Linked DNA regions of Homo sapiens. The protein of the gene in region 1 purifies or fractionates together with the protein of each later gene. This does not show direct contact. Each region holds a gene or a part of one and is shown on either strand. Other genes may lie near its edges. The genes, in order: PRKACB, PRKAR2A and VAPA.

The links.
Region 2: the proteins of PRKACB (region 1) and PRKAR2A purify together in Homo sapiens (affinity purification with mass spectrometry; 7 studies listed by BioGRID and IntAct, with this or other methods). This does not show direct contact.
Region 3: the proteins of PRKACB (region 1) and VAPA purify together in Homo sapiens (affinity purification with mass spectrometry; 5 studies listed by BioGRID and IntAct, with this or other methods). This does not show direct contact.

What each region holds. Positions count from the first base shown.
Region 1 is NC_000001.11:84,142,618-84,146,365, forward strand, and holds the start of PRKACB (cAMP-dependent protein kinase catalytic subunit beta), read left to right. Parts: upstream 1-1,653; 5' UTR 1,654-1,744; coding exon 1,745-1,931; intron 1,932-2,658; exon of another isoform or gene 2,659-2,701; intron 2,702-3,748. UniProt on the Homo sapiens protein: Mediates cAMP-dependent signaling triggered by receptor binding to GPCRs.
Region 2 is NC_000003.12:48,846,324-48,850,071, reverse strand, and holds the start of PRKAR2A (cAMP-dependent protein kinase type II-alpha regulatory subunit), read left to right. Parts: upstream 1-2,197; 5' UTR 2,198-2,475; coding exon 2,476-2,737; intron 2,738-3,748. UniProt on the Homo sapiens protein: Regulatory subunit of the cAMP-dependent protein kinases involved in cAMP signaling in cells. Type II regulatory chains mediate membrane association by binding to anchoring proteins, including the MAP2 kinase.
Region 3 is NC_000018.10:9,912,280-9,916,027, forward strand, and holds the start of VAPA (vesicle-associated membrane protein-associated protein A), read left to right. Parts: upstream 1-1,736; 5' UTR 1,737-1,977; coding exon 1,978-2,056; intron 2,057-2,324; exon of another isoform or gene 2,325-2,786; intron 2,787-3,748. UniProt on the Homo sapiens protein: Endoplasmic reticulum (ER)-anchored protein that mediates the formation of contact sites between the ER and endosomes via interaction with FFAT motif-containing proteins such as STARD3 or WDR44.

The DNA.
Region 1 (3,748 bases):
GTATACAGAAATGAGCTGTTACATGGCAAAATTCATTGGTCAGTGTTTTGTTAACTGTTATTCACACATAATATTTATACATAAAGCTATAAATTTAAGTTTATCTTATAGATACTGTTACATACTTGTTTAGATTGATATGAATTCCATTACACAAAGTATACACAAATGAACTGTTAAATGGCAAAATTCACTAATCAGTGTTTTCTTATTGGCCTTTTATGTAGTCCTAATTTGATTACATTATTGTTCCTATTTATTTTACTTATCAGTATTGTTTCTATTTTTTATGTTTGTCAAACAGTTGGCAGTAAATCTGAAGTAAGATTTTTTTAGATAGATTGTTTTAGATAGACCTTTTTCTTTCTTTCCTTTCCTTCCCTTCCCTCCCCTCCCCTCTGCTTCCAAAGAGAACCACGGAAATTTCTTATCCTTTAGTGTCAAAAAAACAAGTACTCAAAATTTTTGTTAAATGCCACAGGTTACTTTCTTTCCTGAAAATTGACAAGGCAAGTTTTACTTACTTTTAATCAAAAGAGATGTTTTGGCCAGGCGCGGTGGCTCACACTTGTAATCCCAGCACTTTGGGAGGCCAAGGCGGGCGTATCGCTTGAGGCCAGGAGTTTGAGACAACTCCTGACCTGGCCAACATGGAGAAACCCCATCTCTACTGAAAATACAAAAATTAGCCGGGCATGGTGGTGCGCGCCTATAATCCCAGCTACTCGGATGTCTGAGGGGCGAGAATCGCTTGAACCTAGGAGCGGAGGTCGCAGTGAGCAGAGGTCGCACCACTGCACTCCAATCTGGGAGACAGAGTGAAACAACGTTTAAAAAAAAATAGAGAGGTGTTTCTAAGTGAGATCACTAAATCAGGGGTTTAGGTAAGTAGTAGTCTTCAGTGGTAAGGTTTTAAAATTAACATGTCTCAGCCAACTAGAAGGAACTTTTTTCTCTCAATTGAAATTTCTTGCTATGGTGGATTTTATATAATTTAAATCTTGTATTTTGTTCTTTTCAAATTTTAGAATGTTTTAAAATGTACCCCTGGTAATAGACATATGTCAGCAGATTATAAGTTTGATAAGCAATACTGACATACTAAGTGTATGTAGTTCCTGTATGTATTAGGCCTAAATCAATGAATTAGAAACATTCAATTTTTTAAAGTGCTATTTCACATTGTTTTATTTATACGTGTTATAAATTTGTTTTGCAAGAGTTTTTTCATACCCATTTCATACTAGTTTTTTTTTATGAAAAGTTAGCTGCTTATAAGGATTCATAAAATCTGTATATTAGTTGATTTCCTAGAAAAAATACAACCTGTCTTTAGCATGTTGTGTTTGGAGGACAGCTTGGCCTTCAGTTGTTTGCATAGACTTGTCATACATGTTTAACTAGTTTTCTTTTTAAAGAATGTTTAGCCTACTATATATATAAAGCTTTATATTTAATGCTCTCATTAGCCTATATATTAATATTAAAACACCCAAACATAAAGCCTTTTAGGCAGATATTGCAAGTTTTTAAAATCCTCAACTCTAGCTGAAAAGTGTTTTGCTAAGAAAAGCTCAGTAATGTGCTGTTTTATATTAACAGGAAACAGAACAGCAGTAGTGGTTTGAATACCCTGCAAACAGGAAGTTTGACACATGCATAGCTCTTAGCTTCTGTGTAAGAAGTTGTGAGCTCCTTCTGGAAACATTTGCAGTTACATTAAGTAAAGTGTAAATGCACATGAATGGCAGCTTATAGAGAACCACCTTGTAACCAGTATACAGGTACAACTACAGCTCTTCAGAAATTGGAAGGTTTTGCTAGCCGGTTATTTCATAGACACTCTAAAGGTACTGCACATGATCAGAAAACAGCTCTGGAAAATGACAGCCTTCATTTCTCTGAACATACTGCCTTATGGGACAGATCAAGTAAGTTTTGTTTTTTAAATGATACATTATAACTAGCAACTAAAATGGTAATTGGAGTTTTACAATCAAACATAAAGAACCCTCTTTTGTTTGTTGTTTTCTGATTTTCACAAGGACATTTTGCAAGATGAAGTTGAAAGAATTCCATAAAAACTTGATTATAAGTTGAGCTGAATCATTCAGCTTTCATCATTGTATGGTTTTATTTTTGACTAAGTTCAATATCAGTGACAAGATTTTCTATAAAATTCTTACATCATTTCTAATGTACTTTTTTTTGTTGTTCTTACATAAAAATGAAATACTTAAGTTTCAGAAACAACCATCTGTTTACTTCTTAAAATGTCTTGTATTTATAAGCTTTAAACTTTGAAAGGGGCAACAAGACTCTTGAATTTATAATTACATTTCTATTGTGTTTGCCATGGTTTTATTTTTAAATGCATGTGAGAAAGTTATTTCAGTTTTACAAACAGGAATTTCTAAAATAAAACATAATTATTCTATCTAAATTCTTACACTTATAACATTATGGATATCAAAAACTTTATAATTATATTTTATGTTATTTATACATATGACTCAAATGCAGGAAAAGTTGGTTATGCATGAATCACATTCTTTCAGGCATGTTAAAATGTTTGAACTTGCAGCTTTGCTAAAATGGTGCTGGGGAACCATTTTTGGTGCCATACACTCTAAAAGATAAATTGCACATATAAACAATACTAGTGCCGCCATTCTACATCTCACCTTGGACCCTCCTCAAGGTATTTCTGTGACTCCAATTAGAGGAACAATAGAATTACCCTTGAAACTTTTGCCCTCTTTGGTGTGTTTGTTTGATCATCAAATAGCACTAGCGTTTGACTCTTTCTGTTTATGTATTTGGTAGCAGTTAAGGAAGAAAACTCAGCTTAACAACCACAACAGCAAAATCAAGAATGGCTTACAAAATTTACTCCTAGGTTTATACAGCACCTTGACAGTGTTATAGAAGCTTATTTGAATTAATTTTTTACTAAATCAGAAATTTTTTTACATTCTTCAAACTATTTTTGGGAGATTGAGGAAGAACATGTATTTGTGCATTTTTTCCACTTAAAAGGTTTTGGGTTATTTATAGTCTTTACTGTATAGCAAGTTGATGGATGAGGAATATGAATATATATCTTCAAGTTAATGAACTGTTGAATATTAAAATAGTGGTATAATATTAAACTTTACCATGTAACAAAAGCTTGTTAATTATTGTCCTTGCCCTATTCTTTTAAATTGCAGTCTTTTAAATCCTTTTGGAAATTATTTTTATGCATTTCAAGTATGTTTTAATTTAAAGTTAAATGAGGAATTAAGACAGAATTGAATTAATTTCTGTTTCATTAATACCTGCTCTTCATATAGTGGGTGTTTAGTAAAAGTGTCTCAAATAAATGAATGTTAGGGGTTTTTAATAATTAAAAGTTATGTTTGAACTAGACTTTCACCACTTTTTAAATGTATGGGATCTGTGATGCTTTCTAAAACATATTTTAAAATCTAGTAATGGAAAATAGTATCATGAGCCATGATTTCTATTGGATAAAATGCTGTTTTGTTTTTTTTTTATTGTGAAGTCAAAACAAATAGGATTCTTGTACACAAATAAAATTAGGAGCAAACCATGTAGCGCTGCAAATAATATGCATGATGTAAGAAATACTTAAAGAGTAACTGAATGTTCATTAATTAAGCATTCCTCTACTTGACTCTCCTTTTTATATCCCTGAATACCATAATAGAGATAATAATTTTATGTCTAAGGATGAGTATGGTAG
Region 2 (3,748 bases), on another chromosome or scaffold:
GTCCCAGCTACTCTGGAGGCTGAGGCAGGAGAATGGCATGAACCCGGGAGGTGGAGCTTGCAATGGGCCGAGATCATGCCACTGCACTCCAGCCTGGGCAACAGAGCAAGACTCCATCTCAAAAACAAACCCAAACAAACAAAATGGCCAGGTGCAGTGCCTCACGCCTGTAATCCCAGAACTTTGGGAGGCTAAGGCGGGCAGATCCCTAGGTCAGGAGTTCGAGACCATCCTGGCCAACATGGCAAAACCCCGTCTCTACTGAAAATACAAAAATTAACTGGGCATGGTGGCAGGTGCCTATAATCCCAGCTACACAGGAGGCTGATGCAGGAGAATTGCTTGAACCTGGGAGGTGGAGGTTGCAGTGAGCTGAGATCGTGCCATTGCACTCCACCTTGGGCGACAAAAGGAAGACTCCATCTAAAAGAAAAAAAAAAAGCCAGGTGCGGTGGCTCACGCCTGTAATCCCAGCACTTTGGGAGGCTGAGGCGGGTGGATCACGAGGTCAAGAGATTGAGACCATCCTGGCCAACATGGAGAAACCCCATCTCTACTAAAAATAGAAAAAATTTGCTGGGTGTGGTGGTGCACGCCTGTAGTACCAGCTACTTGGGAGGCTGAGACAGGAGAATCGCTTGAACCTGGGAGGCAGAGCTTGCAGTGAGCAGAGGTCATGCCATTGCACTCCAGCCTGGGCGACAGAGTGAGACTCCTCTCAAAAAAAAATAGGGGCCTGGCAGAACGGTCGCCCTCATTCCTTCCAGATGCCTTTTGAATGCTCTGCTGGATGGGTGGTTGGCTGAGCCGTGGGGCATCTGAGAACAAGTCAGTAGACCTTCTCCAAGAGTATGCAATAAGGACTGAGCAGGAAAAAAGTTGGAGACTGCCTGTCCCCTCACAAAGTTGATGGTCTAACATTCTTCTCAGGGTCAAGAAACTTGTCCAGGGAGACACTGCTGTTTATAATCACAGGCCTGCTTAGCCTAGAACCTGGGCTGGCCTCTTCATCAGTGGGGATGAGGGCTCCTTGCTCCCAGCTGCTCAGCTCCCAGCAGCATTGAGCTCCTGGGTGTGTGCCAAGCCTGTATGGGAGGTGATAGGGAGGATTTTAATTAATACTGAGTAATTACCAGGCGGTGTTTAAGCATCCCAAATGCCCTCAGGTTCCCAAACCTACAGCTACTCTCTTCCTGGCTAGGCCTGTAAGGAGAGGGGGACTCTGCTCTATGCCCAGTGGGCCTTTGGTTAGCACGTAGGCTGTAGACTGGACATCCCAGGAAGGTCTCCACCTTTTTCAATACCCTTCCAGTTTGGTAGGAGGAGGAGGGCAATTTGGGAAATAGTCTGGCCTCTACAGTTCACCTATACCATCTTCCCAGGGGCAAAGGATAACAATGCCTGTGGTCTGCTCAACTTCATCAAGCAGTGTTGACCTAGGGCCCAGTGTAGAATGTGGGGAGAGGAATGGGCAGACCTAGATCTGGGGACCCTGGTGAAAGTGCTCCAGGAGGAACAGGCACAGAGGTCTTTGCTGCTTTTGGCCTTATTTCCCTTTCTCACTGTACACATTTGGCTGAGTGAACTCTTTCAAATTTATTTTTCTGTCTGTGGCTCTCAAATTATGATCTCATTCAAACGCCTACTTCCTACAAGGCCTTACCCGTTTGACATCTCAGAGACCTGACAGACTCCTGAGTTATTCCACCATTCCACCTGGCAGCCAAGGTGGTCTTGACTCCACCAGGCCTTTGCTCTTGTTGTATGTTCAGATGGCTTTCCTCCAGATCTTCCCCTGGGCGGGTCCTGCTCAGGCCTCGGGGCTAGCTTGAATGTCACGCCGGAAAGTGAGCCCTCTCTTGCCCTTCATCACAGCAGAATCACACTGATGTGCTCGTATGCTTCTGCTTCTCGCTGTGTCTCTGGTGCTTAGTAAGTGCTGGCCAAAAAGAGGCTCTTGGCATCAGCTGAAAGAATAATTTAAAGGTCTTCAGGACCAGGCGAGAGGCACTAATCGGTCCCCTTCATGGGTAGACCGTTCATTACCTAATTCCCTGGATTCCCTCCGTGAGCTGGCATCAGGAACACTCCACTGTCTCGACCCCCCGACAGCCCGAGGGGGCGGGTCATCTAGTGGCGCAAGCGCACTGAGGGCCGGTGCTAAGCGGGGACGCGCACGCCCGCGGTGGCGTGCGTCACAACCAGGACGCCTGCCCCGCCCGTCCAGCTCGCCTGCCCGTCGGTCCCCGCGGCGGCGGCGGCTGCCCAGTGACAGCGGCGGCGGTGCCAGGTCGGCCGTGGTAGCGTAGGGTTGCGCGGCCCGGAAACGCAGAGCCGGCCAAAGAGCGGCGCGACGTGAGCCGGGGCCGTGCGCGAAGAGACCTCGCGGGCGCGGAGCGAAAGGCCGGCGTGAGTGAGCGCGGAGACAGTGGCCGCCGGCGGCCCAACCCGTCTATCCCTTCGGCCGCCGCCGGCATGAGCCACATCCAGATCCCGCCGGGGCTCACGGAGCTGCTGCAGGGCTACACGGTGGAGGTGCTGCGACAGCAGCCGCCTGACCTCGTCGAATTCGCAGTGGAGTACTTCACCCGCCTGCGCGAGGCCCGCGCCCCAGCCTCAGTCCTGCCCGCCGCCACCCCACGCCAGAGCCTGGGCCACCCCCCGCCAGAACCCGGCCCGGACCGTGTCGCCGACGCCAAAGGGGACAGCGAGTCGGAGGAGGACGAGGACTTGGAAGGTAGGCTGTGGGCGGGGCCCTGGGGAGTGGTGCAGGAGGTCTCCAGAGGTCTAGAGGGGTGGCAGGGAGCCAGGTGTCGCGCCGCAGCCAAGCCGACCGCAGGCTGGGATTGGGAGCTCTGTAGCCGCGTTTCTAGCGTTTCCCTGAGACACCGGCGTGAGCCCGCGTGCGCCACTTCCAAATTGAGCTCCGCGATCCTGCGAGCCCTAGAGCGCACCGAGTGATTTGTCAGATCCAGCCTTGAAGGAAACGTGCGCGCTGTCGGCCCTGCTAGAGGATCCCTCGCCTTTGCTTAAGACCCTTCACCAGTTTTGGCTTCGAAGACAACAGCGTTCTCATCCAGTGACTTGTGTTTAATTGATAGGACAGTAAGTTTGTTTGGAAATAATAATTTTTTTTGAAAAGTTACTGTGAAAACTTTTAAGCATAGACAAAAGAGGAAAGGTGAGATGAATCCCTATATGCCATCACCTACATTTAACAGTTGCGTTTGTCACAAAGTTTCATCCATACCTTTTTTCTTTCTTTGCCGAAGTGTATTAAAGCAAATCTCTCAGGTCATTTCACCTCTGCTTACTTGAGTTTGTATTTCTTCAAACATGGTCCCTGGGAATATTCCTATTTTTAAAAACTTGGCCAAAACGATTGAATCAAATTTGGTGAGAGTAAATAATTATCTTGCCGGCCGGGGCAGTGGGCCCCTATAGTCTATACCAGCTACTCTGGAGGCTGAGGAGGAAATATCGCTTGAATCCAAGAGTTCGAGACCAGCCTGGGCAAAATAGACACCCTACCTCATTTTTGAAAACGAAAAACCTGGCCGGGCGTGGTGGGTCACGCCTGTAGTCCCAGCACTTTGGGAGGCCGAGGCGGGTGGATCACCTGAGGTCAGGAGTTCGAGACCAGCCTGGCCAACATGGCGAAACCCCGTCTCTACTAAAAATACAAAAATTAGCCGGGCGTGGTGGCGGGCGTCTGTAGTCCCAGCTACTTGGGAGGCTGAGGCAGGGA
Region 3 (3,748 bases), on another chromosome or scaffold:
AAAAAAAGAAAGAAAGAAATGATGGCACAAACCCAAAGACTGAGCAGCAGCAAGATTTATTGTGAAGAGCAAAAGAACAAAGCTTCCACAATGTGGAAAAGGACCCAAGCAGGCTGCCCCTGCAGGCTGGGGTGGCCAGTTTTTATTGGCTTATTTGTCCCTGCCCATGCCCTGCTGATTGGTCCATTTTACAGAGTGCTGATTGGTCCATTTTACAAACCTCTAGCTACCTACAGAGTGCTGATAGGTGCGTTTTTACAGAGCACTGATTGGTGCATTTTACAAAACTCTAGCTAGCTACAGAGTGCTGATTGGTGCATTTTACAATCCTCTTGTAAGAAAAGTTCTCCAAGTCCCCACCCAACCCAGAAATCCAGCTGGCTTCACCTCTCACTCCCAGGAATTTCAGGGCTGAAAACACATTCCTCGTGGGTGGCACAATCTTCTGTGAATGCCAGGCTAGCAATTCCAGCAGGCTGTTCCTGGATGGACCCTAATACCTGGATCGCACATGAAAACTTGGATTTGGTGCCTACTTCTAGACTGCTGTTTCGTCTCGTTTATTTTCTAGACAAACTGTGCTGCTCCATGGCAGTAGCATCAATATGTCTTTTGTTTCGTGGCGCTACCTAGGGATTTAAATTCAAACCGTATCACAAAATACAATAAAGGTTTATTTACAGCACATTGGTTTCATTTGACGTTCCTGTACCGGACTACCCTGGCAATCGGCTAAAGTTTTGTCAGCAAGTTTGCTGCTGGGATTTTTCTTATTTGGTTCAGTTTACTACAGCCTATCGTAAGTGATGCAGATGGAGTTAGTTTCTAACATGTGAACGTGAGAACTGTTTTGGTTTGGGTCCATCATTAAAACTGAAGAAGATTATTTGGGTTCGATGGTGTAGATTTTTGACTTTTATTTCTAGTTTCTGTGTGCTTTGTCATATTTCCCCTTGCTTCCTAGACGAGGTGTGTTTCCTTATCTGATTTTGCATCACTGGAGAGAACTCAGGAAGCAGGAGAGGCTGAATTGGATACCACGGGGAATGCAGCCCTGCCAACAGAGGACTGGATAGAATTAGAGCAAACGGACACATCCCCCCACGCCTGTTCTCCACAGGGCAGATTTTATTAATATATTTCTAACATTGGGGCCTCGTTTCAGTCTTCAAGTTTTTTCTTTTTTAGCGCAAACTAGACGCGCTCTGAGAGCCAAAATTAGCGTCCGCGAACCCCACCCCATTGCCTCCAACAGACCTAGCTCTCCTTTCCACCCTCAAACAGCCGTTACTACAGTTCCCAGCAAGCACCGCGCAGGGCCGCAAAGGGCCAGGCCCTCGGCGAAGGCCCCGCCCCGCAGGGGGCATGCCGGGAGTTGTAGTGAGTGGGCGCTTCCCTACTACTACTTGTCCCTTCCACTGGGCATTCCCACTTGGAAGAGTGTGATGCGCTGCCAGAGCAGTTTCTCTAGTTCCGTACTCGGAGCTCAAGGTGACAGAGGACTGCGCTTCCAGCCCTGCGCTGCGCATCGCGTCGGTCCCGCGGACCTTTGCCCCGCCTCCTTCCACACCCGTTCCCTTGACAGCTGGGCTGCGCTCCGGGCCGCGGCAAGCCGCGAGCGCGCAGGCGCAGCAGCCCCGCGCCGCGCTAGGCCGGCCTGGAGGGCGGGACAAGCGCTAGAAGCTCCCGGCCGGGGGCGCGCACGTAGGCACGCAGAGGCCGTCACGTGGGTCGCCGAGGCTCGCAAGTGCGCGTGGCCGTGGCGGCTGGTGTGGGGTTGAGTCAGTTGTGGGACCCGGAGCTGCTGACCCAGCGGGTGGCCCACCGAACCGGTGACACAGCGGCAGGCGTTAGGGCTCGGGAGCCGCGAGCCTGGCCTCGTCCTAGAGCTCGGCCGAGCCGTCGCCGCCGTCGTCCCCCGCCCCCAGTCAGCAAACCGCCGCCGCGGGCGCGCCCCCGCTCTGCGCTGTCTCTCCGATGGCGTCCGCCTCAGGGGCCATGGCGAAGCACGAGCAGATCCTGGTCCTCGATCCGCCCACAGACCTCAAATTCAAAGGTAGGCAGAACGGGGACACCCCCGGGTGGGGTGGGGCGCGCGGACCGCTGGCTGTCGGCGGGGGGGCGCGGAGGGCACGTCCGCGGCCCTGGCCCGAGGGAGCGCCCCCTCCCCCACGCCCCGGCGCCTTCCCTTTCCCGGCTGCTTTCTTGCCGCCACCTCGGCCGGCCTGCCCCTTGCTCCGGCCCGCTTCATCCCCTCCCGCCCGCCCTCGCTGCGGTGCGCGCGCCGGCCGGGGCGAGGCGGAGGGGAGCCCGGCCCTGGCGCCGCCGCCGCCGCCATCTTGCGGTCCCGCGGGGGCGCCTCCTGGGCGTCCGGTCCCGCCCGCGCCGCGGTCCGCCTGGGCCCGCGTCCTTGGCCCCAGAGGCCGACGGCGTGCTTCGGCGGGGCGTGGGCGGCTGGGCACCCGAGGGCGTGCGCTCTGGGCTGCGGCGGGGAGTGGGCTCTGGAGGTGGCGCAAGCTGCGTCTGTCGCCCGCTCCCGGCTGTCAGCGGCGCGGGGAGGCTAGGGCACGGCGCGGGACCCCTTGGGAGTGAGAGCCGCCCCCCGACCCCTGCCCCGGCCCGGGGAGAGCTCGCTGCAGCCGGCCCTCGGGTTCCGCGGAGGGCGTCGCTTGTCACCTTTCCGCCAGGTTTAGAACTCGGCCGTCAGGTGTAGGACGCGCCGGGGAGGTGGAGAGTCCTTGGAGGTGCCTGGCGAGGGCTGCCCGGTGCTGTTGGCACGGACCCAGGTGCGTGCGGGCAGGAGCGATGCGTCAGCCGCAAACGGAGAGTTGTAGGTTCATAGTAGCGGGGCTTCCTGCCTTCTACGACATTTCAGTGTGCCACCCGCGTGCTTTTATTTAGCCCTTTAGTTGAGCTCCTCTGCTGAGAAACCTTCAGTGCGTGTGACTTTTTTGCTTTTACGTTTGCGGTTTCCGACAGATCCTGAGAAGGCTGATAAGGTGTCACCCAGCTCTGGAACTTTGTAGGTTTTTGTAGTACTGCCTGTGATAAGTTTTTTAGTCTGACTTGGTGATCCTGGAAGAATCCCAGGGGCTTTTGGTCGGTTTCCTTGTCAATATGTAGTGTACTTTAGGAAAGAGAGTTAAAATGTACAGATTTTTATTTTTTTTCTTTGTTTTTAAGGAATACTGAAAGAGTGTGAACATCTAATAGAAAGTAGGTTCCTTCCTATCTTTAGTTAAGTGTAAAGTGAGTCCCGTTTTGGAAGTCTATGTCTTGTATTTCAATTGTTGAATGAGAACAATTTTTGTGAGGTGTATAGCAATTCTAGTGCTAAAAGAAAAAATTAAATCCTTTATTGTTGTGTAAGGCTGAGTCCAAGAGAAAGCCAACTACATTGTTTTCCATAGGAAAAACTTCAGGTTTAGGAATTTAAAATATATTCTGGAATTATGAGATTAATATTGCATAACTACATTGCAAGCTTTTTAGTGCGTTTACAAATTTCTTTGAATAGAAGTGTAAGTGAGCTACTTGTTGGGTAAGGATTTGGTTTTAAGGTGCAGTGAATGTATTTTATTGCAAGTTTATGTAAGTTGTGTGATTTTTACGTAGTTGTAGCTGGGGGAAAACCTTTGAGGAATTATGAAGAGTCCTGACTCAGCCATTATCTTGAGATAATTTAATGTAAATCTGTATGGTGTGTTTTTTTTTAATATTTCGTTTTTATCTTTTGATTGGCTGTGTT